Homo sapiens: one gene and its partners. The protein of the gene in region 6 purifies or fractionates together with the protein of the main gene of each other region. This does not show direct contact. Each region holds a gene or a part of one and is shown on either strand. Other genes may lie near its edges.

What was found.
Region 1: the proteins of TMEM9B (region 6) and VANGL2 purify together in Homo sapiens (affinity purification with mass spectrometry; 2 studies listed by BioGRID and IntAct, with this or other methods). This does not show direct contact.
Region 2: the proteins of TMEM9B (region 6) and ATRN purify together in Homo sapiens (co-immunoprecipitation; 2 studies listed by BioGRID and IntAct, with this or other methods). This does not show direct contact.
Region 3: the proteins of TMEM9B (region 6) and TUBGCP4 purify together in Homo sapiens (co-immunoprecipitation; 2 studies listed by BioGRID and IntAct, with this or other methods). This does not show direct contact.
Region 4: the proteins of TMEM9B (region 6) and ARFGEF1 purify together in Homo sapiens (co-immunoprecipitation; 2 studies listed by BioGRID and IntAct, with this or other methods). This does not show direct contact.
Region 5: the proteins of TMEM9B (region 6) and PDZD8 purify together in Homo sapiens (affinity purification with mass spectrometry; 2 studies listed by BioGRID and IntAct, with this or other methods). This does not show direct contact.
Region 7: the proteins of TMEM9B (region 6) and DNM1 purify together in Homo sapiens (affinity purification with mass spectrometry; 2 studies listed by BioGRID and IntAct, with this or other methods). This does not show direct contact.

Annotation. Positions count from the first base shown.
Region 1 is NC_000001.11:160,403,564-160,407,063, reverse strand, and holds part of VANGL2 (vang-like protein 2), read right to left. Parts: intron 3,161-3,500; exon of another isoform or gene 2,672-3,160; intron 937-2,671; exon of another isoform or gene 739-936; intron 1-738. UniProt on the Homo sapiens protein: Involved in the control of early morphogenesis and patterning of both axial midline structures and the development of neural plate. Plays a role in the regulation of planar cell polarity, particularly in the orientation of stereociliary bundles in the cochlea.
Region 2 is NC_000020.11:3,561,518-3,565,017, reverse strand, and holds part of ATRN (attractin isoform 1 preproprotein), read right to left. Parts: intron 2,743-3,500; coding exon 2,559-2,742; intron 1,810-2,558; coding exon 1,655-1,809; intron 1-1,654. UniProt on the Homo sapiens protein: Involved in the initial immune cell clustering during inflammatory response and may regulate chemotactic activity of chemokines. May play a role in melanocortin signaling pathways that regulate energy homeostasis and hair color.
Region 3 is NC_000015.10:43,381,101-43,384,600, forward strand, and holds part of TUBGCP4 (gamma-tubulin complex component 4), read left to right. Parts: intron 1-2,202; coding exon 2,203-2,404; intron 2,405-3,500. UniProt on the Homo sapiens protein: Component of the gamma-tubulin ring complex (gTuRC) which mediates microtubule nucleation.
Region 4 is NC_000008.11:67,333,782-67,337,281, reverse strand, and holds part of ARFGEF1 (brefeldin A-inhibited guanine nucleotide-exchange protein 1), read left to right. Parts: intron 1-3,500. UniProt on the Homo sapiens protein: Promotes guanine-nucleotide exchange on ARF1 and ARF3. Promotes the activation of ARF1/ARF3 through replacement of GDP with GTP. Involved in vesicular trafficking.
Region 5 is NC_000010.11:117,284,941-117,288,440, forward strand, and holds part of PDZD8 (PDZ domain-containing protein 8), read right to left. Parts: intron 860-3,500; coding exon of another isoform or gene 831-859; exon of another isoform or gene 754-830; intron 532-753; coding exon 1-531. UniProt on the Homo sapiens protein: Molecular tethering protein that connects endoplasmic reticulum and mitochondria membranes. PDZD8-dependent endoplasmic reticulum-mitochondria membrane tethering is essential for endoplasmic reticulum-mitochondria Ca(2+) transfer.
Region 6 is NC_000011.10:8,954,443-8,957,942, forward strand, and holds part of TMEM9B (transmembrane protein 9B isoform a precursor), read right to left. Parts: intron 1,857-3,500; coding exon 1,748-1,856; intron 1-1,747. UniProt on the Homo sapiens protein: Enhances production of pro-inflammatory cytokines induced by TNF, IL1B, and TLR ligands. Has a role in TNF activation of both the NF-kappaB and MAPK pathways.
Region 7 is NC_000009.12:128,220,379-128,223,878, reverse strand, and holds part of DNM1 (dynamin-1), read right to left. Parts: intron 1,683-3,500; coding exon 1,540-1,682; intron 1,419-1,539; coding exon 1,283-1,418; intron 1,087-1,282; coding exon 1,019-1,086; intron 1-1,018. UniProt on the Homo sapiens protein: Catalyzes the hydrolysis of GTP and utilizes this energy to mediate vesicle scission and participates in many forms of endocytosis, such as clathrin-mediated endocytosis or synaptic vesicle endocytosis as well as rapid endocytosis (RE).

The DNA of each region.
Region 1 (3,500 bases), on a different chromosome or scaffold from region 6:
CTAAACCCTACTTACCCTAAAAAACCAGACCCCCTGGGCCGGGCGTGGTGGCTCACGCCTGTGATCCCAGCACTTAGGGAGGCCGAGGCAGGTAGATCACCTGAGGTCAGGAGTTCCAGACCAGCCTGACCAACATGGTGAAACCCCGCCTCTCCAAAAAATGCAAAATTAGCCAGGCATGGTGGTGCATGCCTGTAATCCCAGCTATTCGGGAGGCTGAGGCAGGAGAATCACTCGAACCAGGGAGGCAGAGGTTGTAGTGAGCCAAGATCGCGCCATTGCACTCCAGCCTAGTCAACGAGCGAAACGGTTTCAAAAAAAAAAAAACCAGAACCCCCTCCCTAGACCCACAAACAAACACACCCTCTCTCTCTGACCAGGCTGAGGGAGCCAAGAACACTCTGGTGAAAACAGGAGTCTGAAGGACATTGTTAGGGGCTGTGAGAAAACCCTACAGACAATAAGGACCAGGCTCCTCCCATTCACAAACAAGACCCCACGGGCCATGGTGGCCGGAGCCTACAGTCACTCCTTTACCCCAACCCCCATCCAAAATCATGGCCCAGCAAGGAGAAAGAGACCCACCCCAGGAGAGGTTTCTGCCCAGATGCTGGCCCCGCCCCAGGCTTATGACACCAAGGTGCTCCTCCTGGAGATGAGATCGTTCTCTGACTCCCACCCTCAAGGGTAGGCTTCTCTACTCCTCAGGCTGACACTGGACTCATGTTTGCTTTTCAGAAAACAGGGGAATTACTCAAGTGCAAGATTAAAGGCAATAATGAGCAATCAGACCGAACTGGAATGACAGTAGGGGAAGGTGAAGAGACTTTGGGAAAAGGAAGAGCACTGAAGTCAGACCTGGCACAGCCTTTTACGAGCTATGTAATCTCAGGTGAGTCGCTCCCCTTTTCCAAACTTCAGTTTCCTTATCTATAAAATGGCAATAATAGTGCCTACTTCAGAAGGTTAAGAGTTTTCAGCAAAATAATGTATGCAGAATATTACAGATTCTGGCACACAATAGATGCTTAAAAAAATGTTAGTTCCCACCTTTTCTCCTTTAGTGGGTCCACAGCGAATCCCCTCCACTTCCTGCTCCCATAACCTCACTGTAAGGAGAAACACCCCAAAATAAGATGGAACCACCTCTAGGTGCAGGGTTGTCCCTGTTCTAAATTAGACCACATCCAGGTACTGCCTGAGAGAGCAACCAACATGCCTCTTCCTCCTCTCTGCTTCTTTCTTCAGAGGCCCTTGGATCCCCCACCTTTCCTCCTCTCCTTCCTCCTTCCTCACTTACAGTAAAGCAGACCTGGGTTCCAATCACCTCCCACTCTCCTCTAGGCTCTAAGCCCAGCTGTGTGTGGAGCGGCAGGGGAAGGAGGCCCCAAGCCTCCCACCCTACCCAGCCCCCAGCTTCATCCCACTCTCCCCTCTCCCTGCCCCACCCTGATTACCAGGATATCCTCAGGTCTGCTGATTCCAAGCCTGCTTCTCTCAAACCAGTTCCCAGCTGTTATGTCTATAATTACCAATCTTGCCAGGGGCATCCGACAAAGCACAGCAAAACCTCATTTCCAAAGGGCCCCACCATAAAGGGCCTCTGCCTCCTACTCTGTACCAAGCAGGGTAGAGACAAGGAATGCAAACATTCTCCCTGGCCCACCACAGTTCTATCCAGACTACAACAGAGAAGGTGAGAGAGGGCTGCCCAAGCCACATCACCAAGAGACAGGATAAAGAAGGGGAGGGCCGCCGTAGGGTAGAATGTGAGTAGGACTTAGTCCCAGGCCTTTCCTTCACCTCTGCTGCCAAAATCTCATCATGCACAGGGTTACCCACCTGTGGAAGGTAAAAGGGAAAATTTCAGGTCAATTCAGAGAGAGGGGAAGCTGATGTCAAGTGAACAGGGAGATGGCTCCCCACAAGGATGAGGGTTGATGCATACAGGAGTGAGCTGCCCAGGAAAGAGGAGGAAAGAGCAAGTTTTAAAAGTCCCATCCCCAGCCCAGACCCTGAGAAGAGGCAATAATACCCTAGCCTCTCTTCTCCCCTAATACCTCCAACTCTACCAAGCCCATAGCACAAGCAGGAAAGGGATGATTAACTTTGTTTTATAGACAGAGAAACTGAGGCCAAATCCCCACTTCATACTGCAAGGTACAGGACTACCAAATACCCTGTGTGCCTTCTTGCTCACGCTCAGCCTCCACCAGGAGTGCCATCCTAAGACCCTTCCTGTTGGCCTAACTCATCCTTTAACCAGGTAAAGTCTGTCCACACAAGGGAATAATATTCAGCTATAAAAGGGAATGAAGTACTAATACATGCTACATGCTACCGTGTGGATTAACCTGGAAAACATTATGTTAAGCGAAGGAAGCCAGATTCAAAAGGTCATGCATTCTATCATTCCATTTGTATGAAATATCCAGAATAGGTACATCCATAGAGACAGGATGCAAATTGGTGGTTGCCAGGGGCTGGGGTAAGGGGAAATGGCGACAATTGTGTAATGGGTATGGGTTTTGTTTCGGGATGGTGCAAATGTTTGGGGACTAGACAGAGGTGGTTGTTGCACAGCACTGTGAATGTACTAAATGCCACTGTTCACTTTAAAATGGTTTATTTCCTATTATGTGAATTTCACCTTAATTTTTTTAAAATCCAGCTAACAGGGCATCTCCTGCAGGAACCTTCCCTGGCACCTCACCCCAGGGCCAAGCACTCTTCCTCTATGCTCCAGTGGCCTCCTGAACACACCTCCACACAGCACTCACTGGGCTGCAGTGAATCAACATGTTTTCACATGTCTCCCCTGGGAAAACATCTTATTTGCCCCTCCATCCCCTGTGCTTCACACTGTGCCTGGCAGATAGGAGAGAGTGCCTAATGTGGTCGGCCAAAGGAAGATCAGAACCAAAGCCTAGTTCTCCTATCCCGACTCCGACCTCTCTCCCTTAATGATGATTATCCCTCAGAATCCGAACCATCCAGCTAACATTTACTATGTGCCAGGAACTGTGCAACGTGCTTTCTCTATTATTTCATTTAATCCTCATAACCCCAAGAAGTAGGGCCTATTATTAATTCCATTTTACAGGTGAGGCTTCAAAAAGTTACCAGTTTTGTCTGATGTCACGGAATTAGACAGTGGCAAAGCCAGAATTTAAAAGCAAACCAGGGAAGAAAGCCACTTGGTGGGGGACCAGGGATTCCTTGTGGAAGGGCTCAGTCTAGGCTTGGAGGATGTGCCTTAAGACACCTAAGAGGCTGGGGAATGGGGTTTATTACTTGCCCAGATCACACCACTGTTAAGTACTAATTCCAACCAACTCTGACTCCTTTCTCTGGCCTCACAATGTGATGAACACTTGAGGGAAGGAGAAGACTGGAGTTCCCTAAAACTCAGAGGGGATCAGATCTCTTCCTTTTCCCTGCCAAAGCTTCTGTTAGTCAAGTTCCCTCCCCATTAACTGGAAGGACCTGGAAACCAGATG
Region 2 (3,500 bases), on a different chromosome or scaffold from region 6:
TCTCAGCTCACTGCAAGCTCCTCCTCCCAGGTTCACGCCATTCTCCTGCCTCATCCTCCCAAGTAGCTGGGCCTATAGGCGCCTGCCACCATGCCTGGCTAATTTTTTTTATTTTTAGTAGAGATGGGGTTTCACCGTGTTAGCCAGGATAGTCTCAATCTCCTGACCTCGTGATCTGCCCACCTGGGCCTCCCAAAGTGCTGGGATTACAGGCATGAACCACCACGCCCAGCCAAGAATGTTTTTTAAAGCAAGCAAATTTTACATTCTACAAAGCTTATGTCAGCAAAACATGGGTTTCATAATTATTTTCCACTCTTTTCTATATTGATTTGCTCAAATTTAGTAGCTAAAATGGAAAAATAAAGGTGGAAAATGAAATTTCAAGAAATTTAAATGTCACCTAATTTTTACAAAGTCCTTTCCTAGATCCCATAGATTGATTAATTTTCCCTTGTTGTGACCCATACTAGCAACTTCTCTTCTGGATCTAATACCAACTGGTGCTGCTATACCATGCCAACCTCACACTCAGTGTCTCACTCTTTGAGCCCTTAAATATGTGCCGGTCTTTTCCACCTCTGTGTCTCTGCAAACTGGGTTTCCTCTGCCTGGAGAGTGCTGCCTAACTTCACCTACCTGACACCTAGTGTCCCCAAGGACCCAGAGAGGATGGCCCCTCCTTAAGAAAGTGTTCCCTGTTTATCACTCTACCCTCCATGACTTAAAGGGTACTCAGAGGTGCTCTCATACATTCTTTTCAGCCAGAAACACCCTGAAGTGCAATTCTATTGTCTGCTCATTTCTCTACCTCTTCTACTTTGAGGCTAAGGGCTTTAAGTTATTCATCTGATCTCCTCAATGTACAAACTGAGTGGCTGGCACACAAATGTCTGTTAAAAACGAATGTCTGACTTGGAATAGTCAAAATCACAGAGACAGACTGTAGAATAGTGGTTGCCAGGCATTGTGGGGAGGAAGAAATGGGACATTATTGTTTAATGGGTATACAGCTTCAGTCTTACAAGATGAAGACAGTTCTGAAGATGGATGGCGGTGATGGATTTATAACATTATGAATGTGTTTAGTATCACTAAACTAGACATTTAAATATAGTTAGGATGGTAAATTTTATGTGTATTTTACCACAATCAAAAAAATAATAATTTGTTTAAAATGAACATCTGACAATTTTTATGAAAGAGATCATCCGGTATGCATTTGCTTTGCATGAACAAATACTGCCCTCTTCTGGTCTGGTATATTGCCACACCAAGACCATGTGAGAAACCAGTTTTCTAGGGAATGAGATAAAGCTAATACGTGAACCAATTTTAACACAATGCTGGTGGTTGCAACTATGTAACACTACCAGGTAGGCATAACATGACAAAGGAGAGACTAGACACCTCAACTCAGCCTTAAAAATTAGCATTCAAGCAATTAACAGGAGTGATTTCAAAAAGAATTTAATGTAGAAATAATTTTTACCAGATGTGTAACATTAGTCAAATGAATATAAAAAATACCATTTGGACCTCTTTCAAATGGCCTGATCATTTTGAACTGGCAATATTTTCAGTCTCCTTTTAAATGCTGCTTATAGTATAGGCAAAAAGATGCCTGAAGAGAAAATGGTTTTGGGAAACTTACCAATGTCATAGGCCATGAAATCTGAAGAGAAGCATTTGGCGCCATGGCTCATAGATGTGTCATTGTGTGTGTTTCCTCCAAACACCAGCATGGTTCCACTCACTATCACAGCTGTGTGCAAGTAACGGAAAAATCGGCTGTCCTTAAGAATGGTCCTTTTGAGTTTATTTAGAAATAATAAATACAAGGTTAGTTTTTAAAGAATATTTATGTATCTGCTAATGCAAGCACAACCACTTTATTAACCTCAGACCCAAATGTACAAATCCTTCCAGAGTTTTCCCTACATAAAAGTAAGTTTTTCAACAATAAATACAGATAATTTTAAAGACCTGTAAGAGTTTTGGCAAAATATATTAAGAACCTTAAACTCTTCATACCCCGTAGCTATATAATTCCAGTTTCTGGGCAGAAATCATGTGAAATATTGACAGAAGCTTAATGCATAATGGTTTCTTAATGACATAAAAACTAGAAAGAAACCAAAACTTTCACCTGCATAGTCTCAGCATACCCACAAAATGGAGTATTGCACAGCTACTAAAAATGATTATTTTTATGACAGAATATAAAACAGTACCCATAGCAAGGTATCAAACATGTGAGGAAAAAGAGGAGAAACCATCGCTTTATAATTACATTATTTCGTAACTCAAATTTGCTTTACATTTGTTAAAAAACTCTAAGTATTTTCTAACCAACCTGCTACAGAATTACAGAATAACGTAACAAAATAAATACTAGCTACTTTATTACCCTCTGTTTATTTCCCAATTTCTCTATATATAATGCCGAACAGAATTATCTGCCAGGCATGAAAACAAAAAGATAGCACAATATTTTCTCCACAATTGCCTCTACAGAATTTACACCTTAAAGTGAAAGCTCAAGAAAAAGTACCCACCACATCTGGGTATCCACATCATATCGGTAGAGATCATCTGCAAGCCGGTACTTATTGGCACTGAAAGCCTTGTAGCCACCATGAACGTATAGGGCCCTGGTCCTATGGTCGTAAACACTGCTATGGCCGTAACCCCCTTGCACAAGGGCACCCTGGGTGTGTAATATACTCCATGTGTTCTTATCTGGAAAGGAAAGACAGTTAAAGGCAAGCATGGCAGGCTCCTCCTCTCTACTACTGAAAATGTCCAAAGAGCTTAGGGCATGAGAATGGATTTCAGGAGACCTGATACATATACTTTTTTATCTTTATATTTTAAAGAAAGCCACCTAAAACTTATAACAAAGCCATGTGGCCCAATTCCAGTCTGTTCTATGTTCTGATGTTCTAATATGCCATGTAGGAAAAGAATTAACTAAATTTAAAACACTCAGGGCCAGGCGAAGTGGCTTACATGTGTAATCCCAGCACTTTGGGAGGCTAAGGTGGGAGGATCACTTGAGGCCTGCTATGTTGGCCAGCCTGGGCAACATAGCAAGATCCCATCTCTACTAAAATTAAAAAATTAGCCAGGAGTGGTGGCACGCACCTGTAGTCCCAGCTACTAGGGAGGCTAAGGTGGGAGGATCACTTGAGGACAGGGCATCAAGGCTGCAGTGAGCTATGATTGTGCCACTGCACTCCAGCCTGTGTGAGAGAACAAGAGCCTGTCTCAATAAATAAAATGTTCACTCAAATGAACATTTAATTCCCTACAACCTTTGGTGACCAATATACAGATATATTTTATAGGCCTACTTTCACAAAATGTTAATTATACCTGGTATTCCTACTGCACAACAACAGATACAATGAAATTTAACCAAGGGAAATATTTCATATTAAGGGTAAATCATACTCCACTAAACCAATCTCTAAAGGGCTGGGCAAATATTTTTTTTC
Region 3 (3,500 bases), on a different chromosome or scaffold from region 6:
CCGGCCACTCACAACTCTTAATCTCCACTCTAACCACTGCATGAGTAAATCCTCCAGAACATTCCTTAGGGACTTAATTCTCTATTATACTTTTGTGTATAGAATATAAAATCTAATGTAGATGATACTATATATACATGTTTGTTCTGTGTTTGCAGGGACCAAACTTTACAGACCACATACTCAGAAATGCATAAATGTAAATAGCTTCACATTTGATCTTTTTAAAGAGAGATTCCATTCAGTTAAATAACACAGTCAAGTTCTTGTAATTTCTTTTTCTCCCAACCTTTTATTTTGAAAAATTTTAAACCTACAAAAAAGTTGAAAGAAACGTATAATAAAACACTTGTAGGCTGGGCTCGGTGGCTCACGCTTGTAATCCCAGCACTTTGGAAGGCTGAGGCAGAGGGATCGCTTGAGCCCAGGAGTTCGAGACCAGCCTGGGCAACATAGCGAGACCCTGTCTGTACCAAAAATAAAAAAATTAGCCAGGTGTGGTGCCTGCCTGTAGTCCCAGCTACGGGAAGCTGAGGCAGAAGGATTGCTTTAGCCCAGGAGGTTGATGCTGCAGTGAGCTGAGATCTCGCCACTGTAATCCAGCCTGGATGACAGAATGAGACCCTGTCTCAAAACAAAAAACAAAAAAAACCAACCAAACGCTAGTGTATCCTTTAGTTTCACCATTTGTTAACATTTGCCACGTTTGATTTCTCTTTTTCTCCTTCTATACGTATATGTGAAATGCACAAATTTTTTTGCAGAGTCATTTGAAAGTAGTCACAGATACCCTAACACTTAAATACTTCAGCTTGTATCACTTTAGAAAAAAGGCATTCTTGGCTGGGCATGGTGGCACACACCTGTATTCCTAGCACTTTGAGAGGCCAAGGTGGGTGGATAGCTTGAGCCTAGGAGACCAGCCCAGGCAACATAGTGAGACCCCGTCTCTACAAATACAAAAAAAGTAGGCATGCTGTGTGCGCCTGTGGGCCCAGCTACTTAGGAGGCTGAGGTGGGAGGGTGGCTTGAGTCCAGGAGGTCGAAACTGCAGTGAGCCATGATCGTGCTACAGCACTCCAGCCTGGGCAACAGAGTGAGACCCTGTCTCAAAAAAAAAAGAAAAAAGAAAAAAAGAAAAATAAAAGAAAAAGGGATTCTCTTATAGAACATCAATTCCATATTACACCCAAGAAAGTTAACATTAATTCAGTAATACTATATCCAAATTTTTCTAGTTGTCCCTCAGAATTCCTTCATAGCTGTTCTTTTTTTGCAATCCAGGATCCGATCAGTGTTCACATACTACATTTTGTTCTCATGTCTTTTTAGTCTCCTTTAATTTAGAACCGTCCCCCTTGCCTTTTGTTGTTCTTGGTGTTTTGGATGACGCTGACATTTTAAGAGTCCTGACCAGCTGTCCTGTATAATGTTTCACAATCTGGATTTATTGTTTCCCTATGATTAGATTCAGATTAAACATTTTTTGGCAAGAATACTATGTAGGTGATATTATTTCCCATTACATCATATTAGAAGGTACAGAAAGTAACTTTATCCCATCACGGATGTTATGAAGTTGGATCACTTGGCTTAGGTGTTTTCATCACGTCCTGCTCCATTATAGAGGTACATTTTCCCCTTTTTAATTAATATGCTATCTGGTGGGTGATCCTTTGAGACCATCTGAATATCCTATTCCCCAACAACCATTCTGCATTTTGTTTTAGTTTCTGAATTTTGCTAGATAATGGTTTTTCATGTATACCTGGCACTCACGTATTGAATATTCTCTCCCTAAGTGATTCCAACAAAAATAAAACAAATTTAATACTGTGTTAGCCAAAAAGAGACTCCATTAAGTCGATTTTTAAAATTTTTTATTATTTTTATTTTTTATTGCTATAAAACAGTTGTACATATTTAGGACCCATCAGTTTTGAAAATTACATAAAAGAAGGGAAGAAAATGTCTTCCCTAAAATAATATCAGCACATATACTGAACATTTTAGATTTCATTGTGTAGGCTGCAAATATGGAAATTCAGTGAGTTAGTTCACCCACATTTAAATTAAAATAGCACAATTATTTTTAACTTAATTGGTTATTTCTGTTATGACTCATCAAATTCTCAGGCCTCTGTTTATCCTGTAACAGTTTAAAGCATGACTTCTGAGCCTCTTACTTTCTACTCTGCCCAGAATCCTGGCCGTTTGTCATGGGGTCATGTATAAACAGCTCTCAGCCTGGATGCTCCATGGACTCCTCTTGGACCAGCATGAAGAATTCTTTATCAAACAGGGGCCATCTTCTGGTAATGTCAGTGCCCAGCCAGAAGAGGACGAGGAGGATCTGGGCATTGGGGGACTGACAGGAAAACAACTGAGAGAACTGCAGGACTTGGTGAGAGCCCAAAAAGTAGCCTAGCACTCTCCTGCCAGGAGTCAGAAAAGCATGCACACAAATGATCTTCTGGTGATCCCTTCTTAGCTCATAGCTGAGCACCTTCCATCAATCCTTTCGATGTAAACATTCGGCTTTATCTTAACTAGTGTGAGACTATAAAATAGAAAATATGTTTGTGATATTCTTTTTGTTTCCTCTTTCCCAATATATGCATTTGAGAGATTATAAGTCTTACTTATGTAGCTACTCTAATGGAGCAGCTAGCTACATTTTAGATTTTAAATACAGTTTGGAGTTTTGTTTTTTTTTTTAAAGACAGATTCTCACCCATCGCCCAGGCTGGAGTGCGATGGCGCAATCTTGGCTCACTGCAGCCACTGCCTCCCAGGTTCAAGCAATTCTCCTGCCTTAGCCTCCCAAGTACCTGGAACCAGGCATGTGCCACCATGCCTAGCTAATTTTCATATTTTTTATTTTCATATTTTTAGTAGAGACAGGGTTTTGTCATGTTGGCCAGGCTGGTCTCGAACGCCTGACCTCAGGTGATCCACCCGCCTCGGCCTGTAAGTGTTGGGATTACAGGCATGAGCCACCGTGCCTGGCCAGTTTGGTGTTTTGATTAGACTCCTCAAAGTTCTACATTGTCCATATTCATCCATTCATCCATCCATCCATTCATTCATTTATCCTGTGGCAATATTTCATTGAATGCCTGTTATGTGCTAGGCATTGTTCTAGGTGCTACAAATAAAAAGTAGTAGTGTCTGTCCCTAAGGAGCTCATAGTTTAGGGGAAGAGATATAGAAAAGTAAACAGTTACATTACAGTGTGCTAAGGGCTCTGAAAAGACTAAATATGGGTATTCTTGGAACATGGTCATGGGATAGGGTCTTGGAGTGACTAGGGAAGGCTTTTCAGTGGAAGGTATGTCTAAATTGCAAAGAGTTTGGGAGGAGCCATCAAGAGACATCCAGGCAGAAGGAATGATATGTGTAAAGGTACAGGGGCCATTAAGGACATGGTTCATTTGGGGAAACAGTAGTAATTCAATTGAAATGATCAAATAAAGGCTGAAGTAAAATGTTACAAGAGA
Region 4 (3,500 bases), on a different chromosome or scaffold from region 6:
AGACAGTAAAACATTTTCATCCTGCCTTTTATATGTATTTTAGAATGTTTTAATGATAGAATTTTCAGATGATATAATAGGATATTTTCTACTGAGAATAACACAAAATAATTTCAATTTGTTTTGTCTGTTTTTTTTTTTTTTTTTTTTTTTGAGACGGCGTCACGCTCTGTCACACAGGCTGGAGTGCAGTGGCGCGATCCTGGCTCACTGCAAGCTCCGCCTCCCGAGTTCACGCCATTCTCCTGCCTCAGCCTCTCGAGTAGCTAATCTCGTGTAGCGCTACCGCGCCCGGCTGATTTTTTTTGTATTTTTATTAGAGATGGGGTTTCACCGTGTTAGCCAGGATGGTCTCGATCTCCTGACCTTGTGATCCTCCTGCCTTGGCCTCCCAAGGTGCTGGGATTACAGGCGTGAGCCACCGCGCCCGGCCTGCCTTGTCAGGTTTTTTGCAGGGAGGTTTTTTTATCAAAGAAATGAGCCTTTCACTTGTCTGGTTCTTTTCCTGGAATAGGAACTTTGTGGATGTAGTGAAAGATCTCAAGGTGAAGTTGAGATCCTCAACTTAGAGCCTTTAGGTGGGCCCTAAATCCAGTGAATGGTGTCCTTTTAAGGAAGAGGAAGGGACACAGTCACATACAAAGGAAAAAGTCCATGTGAAAATGGAGACGAGATCAGTTACTGCTGCCACATGCTATGGAATGCCAGAAGCCACCAGAAGTAGGAAGAGGCAAGGAGGGATTCTTCCCTTTGGATGTAGCATAGCTCTGCTGTGACCTTGATTTTAGATTTTGGGCCACCAGAACTATGAGAGGAAATTTCTGTTGTTTTAAGCCACCAAATTTATGGTAATTTATTAAGGCAGCCTTAGGAAATGAATGCAAGTTCCCTTTTATCCTAACTTTTCAGACCCATTTTGATTTCTTTATTCAAGTTTCCACTTACAGAGTCTACTGTACATATGTTTACACAATCAGATCCTGTCTTTGGCTCATCTCTGATTGTTTCATGAATCTAGAAAGCAGTTATTCTGAGGCTTTAGTGTGTTATAAGTAGAGGCTCTTGAAAAGCTTCTTAAAAGGTCTGGGCTCAAGTATTTAAGAATATTTAAAAAGTTTTGTGTTCTGCTTTTGATATTTTGTTTTGCTTAGACTTAGACTTGATGTAACTAAATTTGTTTATATAACCTATGTTATCTTTTCATTCAGAAAAGTCTTTGAAAATCTTTAAAATGGCCGGGCGCGGTGGCTCACGCCTGTAATCCCAGCACTTCGGGAGGCCGAGGCAGGTGGATCATGAGGTCAGGCGTTCGAGACCAGCCTGGCCAGCATAGTGAAACTCCGTCTCTACTAAAAATACAAAAAGTTAGCCGGGCGTGGTGGCAGTGGGCGCCTGTAATCCCAGCTATTTAGGAGGCTGAGGCAGGAGAATCGCTTGAACCTGGAAGGCGGAGGTTGCAGTGAGCCAAGATTGTGCTACTGCACTCCAGCCCGAGAGACAGTGCGAGAGTCCGTCTCAAAAAAAAAAAAAGAAAATCTTTAAAATATTTCATATTACCACTGGCGTGTCTTTAGGAAACGCCATGTGAGGCTATTAATTTTTCTTAACAAAAATGTGTACATTGAGACTTCATTTAATCAGCTGTTTAACAATCCTCATCTGTCAGAACTTTGCTAAGAAATAATAAAAATATAAGCAGTCAAAGTACATATTTTGAAGGCCAAGCACTTTATATAGAAGAGAATCTCTATGGCTTTTACTCAGTCTGTATGCTTTTATAATTCCAGTAAGTTTGGTAATTTGATATTTTTTATAAACGAATCCTTCAAATCATTTTCAAAAGTGTAACTACAACAATAAAATTTACTGTGATACGGGGCCCGGCGTGGTGGCTGGCGCCTGTGATCCCAGCACTTTGGGAGGCTGAGGCGGGCAGATCATGAGGTGAGGAGATCGAGACCATCCTGGCTAACACAGTGAAACCCCGTCTCTACTAAAAATACAAAAAATTAGCCAGTCGTAGTGGCGGGCGCCTGTAGTCCTAGCTACTTGGGAGGCTGAGGCAGGAGAATGGTGTGAGCCCGGGAGGCGGAGCTTGCAGTGAGCCGAGATTGCGCCACTGCACTCCAGCCTGGGTGACAGAGTGAGACTCTGTCTCAAAAAAAAAAAAAAAAAAAAAATTTACCGTGATACTCTTAGCTGAAGATAAATAACTACTGTTAACTTTTTGAAAAACAACTTTCTGATAAATGATTTACATACTATAGTATTTACTTTTTTTGAGTGTAATGATTTTTGGTAAATTTACTGAATTATGCAGCCATCAGCATAAATCCAGTTTTAGAACATTTCTATTACCTCAATAAAATCTGTAGTGCCCTTGTTGTCATCCCTAGCTTCTGGCATTCACTAATCTATTTTCTGTCTTTAGAGTTGCCTTTTCTGGACATTTCATGAAATGCAGTTATACACAGGTGGTCGTTAGTGTCTGGTTTCTTTCAGTATGTTTTTGAGGTTCATTCATGAAGTTTGTATCCACACTTCATTTCCTTTTATTGATGAATAGCATTCCATTGTTTAGATATCCTATATTTTGTTTATCCATTTACCAGTTGATGGATATTTGGGTTGAATGAATAATACTGCCATGAATATTTGTGTATAAGTCTTTGTGTGGACGTAAACTGTTATTTGTCCTAGGTAGACAAACTGGGAAGGGAATTGGTGGGCCACTTGATAAATTTATGTTTAACTTTTTAAGAAACTGCTAAATTCTTTTCCAGCCTACATACCCACCAGCAGTGTATGAGGCTTCCCGTTTCTTCAAATTCTCACCAATATTTGTTACTGCCTTTTTATTTTTAGCCATCCTAGTTGTTATGATGAAGTGTTACTTCATTGAAACACTGTTAACTTTTTGAAGTACAGATTAAATATCCTTTATCAGAAATGCTTGGGATCAGAAATGTTTTCAATTTTGTTTTTTTTTTTTTTTTTGGACTTTGGAATATTTGCATATACATAATGAAATATCTTGGGGATGAGATTGAAGTCTAAACACAAAATTTACTAATGTTTCACATCCACCTTATACACAATCCAAAGGTAATTTTATGCACTATTCTTTTTTTTTTTTTTTTTTTTTGAGACGGAGTTTAGCTATTGTTGCTCAGGCTGGAGTGCAGTGGTGCGATCTCAGCTCACTGTAACTTCCGCTTCCCAGGTTCAAGTGATTCTCCTGTCTCAGCCTCCCAAGTAGCTGGGATTACAGGCATGCGCCACCATGCTCAGCTAATTTTGTATTTTTAGTAGAGATGGGGTTTTGCCATGTTGGCCAGGCTGGTTTCAAACTCTGACCTCAGGTGATCCGCTGACCTTGGCCTCCCAAAGTGCTGGGATTACAGGCATGAGCCACTGCACCTGGTCTTATGCACTGTTGTTAATTTTGTGCATGAAACAAAATTTTGACTGTGTTTTGACTGTGACCCATCACGTGAGAT
Region 5 (3,500 bases), on a different chromosome or scaffold from region 6:
TCGCTTGTGGTCGTGGTGGCACAGGTGGTTTGAAAGCAGATCCTTGGGTTGGTTTTGACACTTGTGCTGGGTCTGTTATCTCAGAAGTTTTTAGGGGTGGAGGTTTATTTCCATCTTTGGACTGAATTTTCGGTGGTAGTGGGTGACTTCCTACAGCTAATTTACGGTTTAAAACTGGTGATATAGCTCCAAGGGGTTTAATAGAAAGTGTTGTTGGAACACGTTTGGGACTATGACTTAATGATTGTGCCTCATCTTTGAACTCATTTTGTGCTCTGACATCACTTGCCAAGTCTTCAAATTCAGAATCCAGCTCTCTACTTTCAGTATCTACTGTCAACCCGGCAGCTTCCTCTTCATAACCCGATTGGCATGAGCTTGACAAAAAGTTTTCTTCCAACTGGCCAAAGTTATCTTGCAGCACTGCACCTTGATTACTCTGGCCAACAGGCCTTTCATAGTACACCAGGACTCGGTCACCAGCCTGCTTGATAAGCTTCAACACTTGCAGTGTTGATGTGATTTTCACACCTGGTTTAAGATTTTAAAAGGGAAAACATGTAAATTATTGCAATAGAAATTACTACATTTGTTAAATGTATTTAATTAAATATATATAATTGCCATTACCTCTGGTTATTTAACTAATAGAAGAATAATAGGAAAATCTCAACAATATTTTATTTGGCTTTTGGATGAATCAGTGTGCTAATTCTCAAACCCTGAATGTGCTGATATCCTGGAGATGTTTACCTTTTCAAACCAGATGATGACACAGGATCCCAAAAAGAGTGCCAGGATGCTAACTCCTAATTGCTTTCTATCTCTTCTTAGGTTAGATGACATCTCTCAGTTTGAACTGAAGAAGTGAACAGAGAGAGATCTATTTAAAGGATTCTATTAATGGCTAAATCAGACTTAGAGTGAGGGAAAGCTGTGATTCCACTGAAGGAAATTCTAAAATACTCCAGGGATTACAAGACATATGATGAAAGATTCAAATTAAGAGAGCAGTGCTTGAAAATAATGTAGCAAAATACTATACTATGAATAACGTACTTTTACAGATTCTTTTTATCAACCGTACCCATCACATTCATCTTTTTCAAAACCAGAAAGAACAAGTAAGGGATAAACTGCTTTAAAGTTAAACAAGCTGGTTACTATCTGCATCTGTAATATCTACGTTGTTTTTATTTTTCTTATTTTTTAATTGTTACACGTAGTTTAAAATTTGAAAGGTATAAAGGTATAAAAAGATGTACAGTAAAAAATATTCTTTCCACCTCTGTCTCCCAGCCATACTGTCCCTTCCCTGACCTTAGTAGCTTCTAGTGTATGCTTCTATAGATATTCTAGGTGTGTTAGCACTTAAAGGTGCTACTTGTTTCCTGTCACTCTTCCCACACTCTCTAAAACAGCACTTGCCCAAGCTATCCCTTTATGTAGAACTTAGAGAAAGAATGAGAAGGCTCTTTGTTTTCCAAAGATCTTAGGGCCATCCTAAATAAATCTAAGTAACACCACCCCTTTCTCATAACTTGACTTCAGGTTTCCTCAACCTGTGTCCTCTCTTACTTCAGCTGTCTGGGAAGATCAGGCTTTAGACTCGGTCATCACTTGGAACTTGTCCACATCAAAGATCTTTCATTTTCAATTAGTCTCTGATCACAAGCTCCTATTTTTCACCTCTTACAATCCTGTCTGCTCACTACTTTTAGGCAACTTCCCGGCCCAATCATTCCTCTTTTCTTCTCATGGTCCTGTTGGTCTCCTGATACCACTTGCTCTTCTATCCAACCCTGTGTCTCAAGATTACAACGATGTTCTTACCAATATTTTATTTTCTCGTCCTCATGTTTTTTGATCCCCAGCTTTACTAGCCCCACTATTGCCCTTTCCTGCTCTTGAGCTTGCCGCTTGGATCTAGCATCAAGTTAGCCATCCATCTTTGGCAAGGTGTTCAGGGCTGCTTAGCATTCTTTTGATCAGTCTGTAAACAACTAAGTCTCTCAAACATCAGCTGTAAATCTTTCCTGTTTCCCTAAAGTCTACTCTCCCTACTCTCTTTTACTCTGTGCATGCTATCACCTTATTTGCCAAAAAGATCAATATGAAGCTACCTTTTCTCCCTACCATCATTTTTAGTATTATCTTACTTCAGAGGAGAAAATATCCCTCTATCTGTATACTTACTTTGGATCCAATCCTCCTGTCTCCTTCCTGACTTTGCTCTATCAATTATCCTTAAACTTTTTCTTCCTTTTCTTTAAAATTTTTCTTTTTCTTAGTTTCCACAACACTTTACACAATTGGTTCTGATCACCTCTCCTCTAGCTTCTTTTTCTCCACCTATACCACCTGCACCTTATATGCAACTGTTACCAAAGTTTGCCACTAGTTCTCTCACCCTTTTTTGCTCTCTCCCTGGTAAATTACAGCCACTCCAGTAGTCTCAAAAACTATCAACTTTTTCTTTGGTTTCCCTTCTTCTTCACTTTAGTTCTACATTCCCAACTACTGGACATCACCACCTGGATGTTCCTTTGGGACTAAATATTCAGCAGAGCTAAAACCTTTCTTTGACTGTCTCTCTGTCCTCACTACTATCAATCAACTTGCCACTCCCAGTTAACTCAATTTGAATCCTAGGGATATTTGACTCCCTAGAAACATTCAGCTGTCAACTCAAACTTGTGATTTCAGCCCATTTTCCTTCCCTGTTCAGATCCTCCTGATAACTGGCCTTCACTTTAGTAATAAACAGCTTTTAACTGCAATCTCTCACTCAGACCTTCCCTACTTTAAACACCAAACATATTGCTACGAAATTTTCCTAAAGCATTTGCCCCTTTAGCCTACAAACTTATCACATGGAAATTCAGAGCTTTCTAATATGGTGCTTCATTATTTATCTAGCTTTAAGTTCTACTACGTCCTTCTAACCATACTATGTCTCAGCAAAATTATAGTTTGACATATGCATAAATGAAAAATTAGTCCATCTAATGATCTACAGTAGGCAAAAACTTCAACTCAATCTGAACTCATTTTTTATGACTAAAAATCTGCCCTCGTCTCATCTATTCCTCAGTCATCAGGTGTTTTGTGGAGATGGCCATTGCAACTCTCTCTCAGGAATACACCATTCAAGTCTGGATTTTTCTTTTGGAATATTTCAAACACACTCAAAAGCTGAGGAAACAGTAAAATGAATTCCATTTTGAGCTTCAAATATAATATTTTGCCAATCTTATTTCAACTATCATCAATTATATACCCATATAAATGAATCAAAGCGATATAAAAATGTTTTGAAAAATATCTGTTGACATGGGGAAAGTTTACAACATGCTAAAAGAAATAAAGACTATTACAAAAATGCATAGTTTAGAAATTTTTGTTTCCTAAACAAAAATTGGGAAAGGCATATATTTATGTACAGAAAAAAACAAACAAACAAAAAAACAAAAAAAGAGACATACAAAAGCTTTTCTGTT
Region 6 (3,500 bases):
CACACCTGGCTAATTTTTATATTTTTAGTAGAGATGGGGTTTCACCACGTTGGACAGGCTGGTCTCGAACTCCTGACCTCAAGTGATCCACCCGCCTCGGACTTCCAAAGTGCTGGGATTATAGATGTGAGCCACCATGCCTGGCCTGAAACTGGATTTTAAAATGTTTTAAATCTACTAAAATTTATAGAATTGTATACTTATAGTGAGTGACTTTTAGGGTACATAAGTTGTATATTTTTTACAAATCTGTTAAATAATAGTACAGTGAGGATTTATCTAAAGTTCAGCACCCTGCTGGAGCAAGAGCTCTTCCACAGGGTCAATCACAGCAGAAATGTTTGTGACTATTATAACTAACCACCCCACATTCCCCACAGGGCCTTTTGGGGGGAAAGGAATGGGAAGTGCCATGTAAAAAAAAATTAGGCCAGGCGCGGTGGCTCACACCTGCAATCCCAGCACTTTGGGAGGCCAAGATGGGTGGACCACGAGGTCAGGAGTTCGAGACCAGCCTGACCAACATGGTGAAATCCTGTCTCTACTAAAAATACAAAAATTAGCTGGGCGTGGTGGTGCATGCCTGTAATCCCAGCTACTCAGGAGGCTGAGGCAGGAGAATCGCTTGGACCCAGGAGGCGGAGGTTGCAGTGAGCCAAGATTACACCACTGCACTCCAGCCTGGGCAATAGAGCAAGACTCCATCTCAAAAAAAAAAAAAAATTGGAAGAAAAACCATTAGCCACTATAATAAAGTAACTGAACTCATTAGAAATACAAATGGTGATGAGAGTGATCTACATCCCATTTACTACAGCAATACTCCACAACCTTTTTGGCACCAGGGACGGGACCAGTTTCATGGAAGACAATTTTTTCATGGACCAGGGGTGGTAGGGGATGGTTTGGGTATGATTCTAGCACATTACATTTATTGTGCACTTTATTTCTATTATTATTACATTATAATATATAATGAAATAATTATACAGTTCACCATAACATAGAATCAGTGGGAGCCCTGAGCTTGTTTTCCTGCAACTAGACGGTCCCATATGGGGGTGATGGGAGTCAGTGACAGATCATCAGGCATTAGATTCTCATTCTCATAAGGAGCATGCAGCCTAGATCCCTCACATGTGCAGTCCACAATAGAGTTCATGCTCCTATGAGAATCTAATGCTGCTGCTCATCTGACAGGAGGTGGAGCTCAGGTGGTAATGCGAATGATGGGGAGCAGCTGTAAATAAGATGAAGCTTTGCTCACTTGCCCACTGCTCACCTCCTGCTGAGTGGCCCAGTTCCTAACAGACCACAGACTGGGCTGTGGCCTGGGGGCTGGGGACCACTGTCCTACAGGAAATGAAGAGGGGAAATCTTAAAATCCAGAAGTAATAGTTCTAGAATAATTACTATATATTTAATTTTTTCAAAGGGCTGGAAAGGCAAGGAGAGGAGGGCTTATAAATGCTGCTCTCTCAGCCTCTGGCACACATGGCCTACACAGAAGCTGGGATATCTTTCTGGAATATGCTAATTACACATAGGGCATTTTTGTGCCATTTCACATATCTATCTAACATACCCTAACTAATCCACAAACCATGTCAGTGAGGCAGGCAGAACAGGCCCATTATTCCTTTTGGGGTAGGGGTCCAAATTTTTCTGTCTTGTCTAGAAACCATCCAGAAGCAGAAAAGACGTAGACAGACAGACAGACAGGTAGATAGAGGGATATATATTTTACCTTGATTGTGACAGAGCTTCTTTCTTCATATTTGCATTCACAGCGTAGACAGTATGCTTCTACATCAGGCCCCCGCACAGGCATGGGCTCCACAACATGAAGGCAATCACTGAAAAAACAAAGATAAAATGCTGCTTAAGCCCAGCTAGCTCTTCTGCTTGCTCTGACCAAAAGTTTCCTGAAATCTAGAATAATCACTAAACTTACCCAATGAAAGAGCATAAAAAACAAATAATCAATAAGATAAAGTAAAATAATTTCTGCTCTCAATATTAGCATTTTGGTAAGTTTTAACCATTTAAGAAGCCACAAAGTCACACATATAGTAGTGTCTATTTTCAAAGCTGCTACTGTTAACAGTTACAAAAACGCACACAAAAAATCCCAAATGGGATGAAAAACTACTTAACAAATCAAGTCACCTTTAGACTTGTTCAGTTACTAAGGAAAACTACTTAAAATGGTTTAAAGTGATATGGGGCACTGTTCAAATATAAGATTATCTCTTTTGTGAATTAACATCATTCTTTTTTGTTGTTGTTTTTTAAGAGACAAGGTCTTGCTCTGTCACATGGGCTGTAGTGGAGTGGTGCCATCATAGCTCACTGCAGCCTCAGACTCCTGGGCTCAAGTGATCCTCCTGCCTCAACCTCCAGAGCAGCTATGATTACAGGAGCCTGCCACCATGCCTGGCTAATTTTTAGATTTGTTGTAGAGATCAGGTCTTGGTTTGTTGACCTAACTTGTCTTGAATACCTGGCCTCAAGTGATCCTCCTATCTTGGCCTCCTAAAGTGCCGGGATTACAGGTGTGAGCCACCGTGCCCAGCCAACATCATTCTTAACTGCCAGTGTGGTGTATGAATGACTAACCACGTTTAACAGCGTGGTAAATTCTGAAACTCTGAAAATTGAACCCTCAAAGCCACACACAGGAAGAAACAATCACTTTTCTTAATGAGCAAATCTGAAAAAGCAAGGAGAAATAGAATAACTAAAATATTTTAAAACAAAAACTGGTTATTCCAAAGAACTAAATAAAAACTAACAAAGGGATGAGTGTTTTTGTTGAATGTTACTTATTTCCCCAACCCCATTTTCAAGGCTAATTATTTATGGTTTGTGTAAACACAGTGCTATCAGATTTTTCCTAGAAATCTGTCAATTCTAAGCAATAACTAAATTATTATTCTCCTCAACTATTAAGAGTCTATGACTCTGATCACCTTCAGCAAAATTAGGGAAAGCTTTCCTGTCCTCCTGCCAGCTGTTGGACAATTTTCTTTCCTTTTGGCATCTCTTCGTTAGGCATTCCTGGCTGCCTCAAGCACTCTACTACACCATCCTATCTTATCTTACCCATTCTCTTGGGGACACCCAATACTCTATAGAGTGATTCCTTCTCTTTCCCCACCAAAATGTACTTTTTGGAAACAAAGTTACAGCTTGGTGGGAGGAATAAGTTCTAGTGTTCTATATCCCTGTAGGATGACTATAGTCAACAATAATATATATTATAGTTTCAAATAGCTAGAAGGAGGATTTTGAATATTTTCAACACAAAGAAATGATAAATGTCTGAGATGCTAAATATTCTGATCAAATCACTATATCTTATATGAATTGAAACATCACTATGTATCCCATAAATACGTACAGTTATTGTGTCAATTAAAAATTAATTTCAGCCGGGCGCAGTGGCTCATGCCTGTAATCCCAGCACTTTGGGAGGCCGAGGCGGGAAGATCACCTGA
Region 7 (3,500 bases), on a different chromosome or scaffold from region 6:
GACAGGGTTTCACCGTGTTAGCCAGGATGGTCTCGATCTCCTGACCTCATGATCCGCCTGCCTCGGCCTTCCAAAGTGCTGGGATTACAGGCGTGAGCCACCGCGCCCGGCCCTAATGAGGCTCTTTGGGGCAAGACAAGGTGGTTGAGTATCTGATATGTAAGTCCTGCTTCCTCGTAAGGGTCTGTGCATATAGGAAGTTCTATGGCCAGAAATGGCTTGAAAATTGCCAAACGTGGTTCTCCATAAGAGCCTTTCCAGGAATAGAGTGTTTTGTTTTAAGACTAGGAAAGAGATCTTTTTTCTGTGAATTGGCCAGTGCAGTTATCAGGAAGTAAATTCCATGCCAAATCTTGGAAATGAACCTGCATGAGAGCAAGGGGACACTGGGTCTTGTTCACTGCTTGGCATAGGGTAGGTGCTTTAAATTTTCCGGCCCAGTGGATTTGTTGGATGAACACAGCATAGATCTGGGTCCCTGAAGGGGATCTAAGCTTTTAAGGAACAGATTCCACCTCCCAATCCTGTTTCCTACTCCACGGGTTGCCTAGAAGGAGGGCGGTGGGGTGGAATGGGACTGACTCTGGGCTACTGTGAATACAGGAGGGTGTGGAGGATTGCAAAGTCCCCGGCCGTCATAAAAGGACACAGCCTCATACTTAGATGCTCCACCCCAGGCCCTCGTAGTGGTTTGGACATCTTTGTCCGGTTACCTGGGTGGCACTGGGGGAGCTATCTCACCCTGGGGATGGGCCCAGCCCCAGAGGGTGTTTCCCCGGCCACCTGCGCCCTGGGCTGTGCCCAGTTGGCCCAGCAAGTTGCAGTAGGCGGGGTGGCCCGGGTCCACCTCCCCAAGCTGGAGCCTGTCATGCAGGGAGCCAGAAAGTTGGGGTCGAGAGGACTGGGGAACAGAGCTTTCAGTCCTTCCTGAGGGAGGCCCACTTCATCACTCCCTGTGCCTCTGTCCCAGACCCCCTACTTCTGGGGTTCAGCCACCCTCCCAGGCCCCAATACGTGCCTAATGCCATGGATATTCTTGATAGCATAGCTGATCTCCCTTCGGAGTTCCTTCTCATCAAACTCCATCTGTGTAGAAAAGCAGAGAAAAGCCTGGTCAGGGCCTGTCCTACTACCTGGGAGGTCAAGACAGGGCCCACCCCACACCTAGGGCTGGGCATCAGGGCCTGTGGGGTGGGGGCCAGCAAAAACACACGCAGAGAGAGTCCTGAGTGAGGGTGGGGGGAGTCCTGAGCCATCCTGTCCCCAGGGCTGCCTGACCTACCTTGACCAGCTCGAAAGGGAAGCGCTCGTGGAAGATTCGGTTAATGCGGGCTCCCCCTGACAGTTCGTAGGTGTCGATCTGATCTCCTGAGCCCTCAATGCGCTTCTCAAAGTCTACGGCGAACTGCTGGACCATCCTGGTGGGAGAGTGGTGTGGCCTGAGGGGGCAGGAGCAGCCCAGCAAAGGGAACCCTGGGAGAGCCCCACGCTGAGAGGCTGGGGGCGGGGATTCAGTGATAGGAGCTGGGGGAGCCTCACTGCAGCAGGGCCTTGGTCTTGCGAGCTGGGTCATCAGGGCGGAAGTTCTTGTATTCCTCCACCTCCTTCTCAATGGACAGTAGCTGGCTCTGCAGCTTGTTCCGCAGCCCCGGCAGTGTGTCCCGGATGTGGTTCGTCAGTTGCTGGGGGTAAGGGTGAGGAAAGGGTTGAGGACAGATGGTCACAGGGCCAGGAAGGGACTTGGATGCCAGGGGACTGTGTGAACGTGGTGAGGTGGAGAGCTATGGAGGGCAGCCCTGCCACTGCTGCCCGGGCCACTAGCAAGAAAACTGGTTCATAGAAGGAGCTTGCAGAGATGTATTAGTTGAATTAATGAGTGCATAATTTTCAATAAAGCCAGAAATCTGGATTTGTATTTGGAATTTCCTGATTTTTGGCCAATTTAATCTTTTTATTTTTATTTATTATTATTATTTTTTTGAGACGGAGTTTCACTCGTCACCCAGGCTGGAGTGCAATGGCGTGATCTCAGCTCACTGCAACCTGCGATCTCTGCCTCCCAGTTTCAAGCAATTCTCCTGCCTCAGCCTCCCAAGTAACTGGGACTACAGGCGTGCACCACCATGCCCAGCTAATTTTTTGTATTTTTAGTACAGGTTTTCGCCTTGTTGGCCAGGCTGGTGTCGAACTTTTGGCCTCAAGTGATCCACCCGCCTCAGCCTCCCAAAGTGGTGGGATTACAGGCATGAACCACCATACCATCCCAATTTAATATTTTTAGACGTGCGTCTGAGGCAGGGGTGGCCAGAGGGCTGCCCCTTGGACCCTCTGGGTTTAAAGCCTCCTTTAAGGTCATTCTCAAGTTCTAGCACTCATGCTCACTAGGTGCCCCCACACAGTATCTCCCTGAACCTTTACAACAATCCTATGAAACAGGTCTGATCACCATTGTCTCCATTTTACAGATGCAGAAATAGAGGCTCAGAGGCCAGGCACGATTATGGCTCATGCCTGTTATCCCAGCACTTTGGGAGGCCAAGGCGGGCAGATCACCTGATGTCAGGAGTACGAGACCAGCCTGGCTAACATGGTGAAACCCCGTCTCTACTAAAAATACAAAAATTAGCCAGGCGTGGTGGTGTGTGCCTGTAATCCCAGCTACCTGGGAGGCTGAGGTAGGAGAATCCCTTGAATCCAGGAGGCAGAGGTTGCAGTGAGCTGAGATCGCACCATTGCACTCCAGCCTGGGTGACAAGAGCAAAACTCCATCTAAGAGAGAAAGAAAGAAAGAGAGAAAGAGAGAAAGAGAGAAAGAAAGAGAGAAAGAGAGAAAGAAAGAGAGAAAGAAAGAAAGAGAAAGAAAGGAAGGAAGGAAGGAAGGAAGGGAAAGAAAGAAAGAAAGAGAAAGAAAGAAAGAAGAAAGGAAAGAAAGAAAGAAAAGAAAAGAAAGAAAGAAAGAAAGAAAGAAAGAAAGAAAGAAAGAAAGAAAGAAAACAAATAAAGAAAAAAGAAATAGAGGCTCAGAGAGCCAGAGAGAGTGTCTCAGAGGGGGAGTGACAAAACTGGGATTGGAAACCAGGTCTTGCCTACACAGACAGACAGTCAGACAGACACACACACACACACACACACACACGCGCGCGCGCGCGCACTTCAGTTCTGGATGCCCCATTCCAGATGGAGAAAAGTCCTGGGGAAGCCCCTGGGATTCCCTGTCAAGGTCTTCAGCCGAGTATACTTGAATCCTGGCCCCCAAACCCAAGCTCTTCCCCATGACACCCTCCACATAGGTCTTGGCCTTCTCTGTGTTGGGGACTTCCAGGGCTTCCCTGGCAGGTCCCAGACAGGGAAAGGTCAGTGAAGCTTTGCTGCTACCTAGCTGTGGGGCTGTGGGCAAGTTGCTTTGCTTTTCTGAGGCTCAGTTTGTCTATCTGCACTACGGAGAGGCTAACCTCTGCTGTTCACTCTCAGAACACACTTAATTTATCCTGTTTTCATGC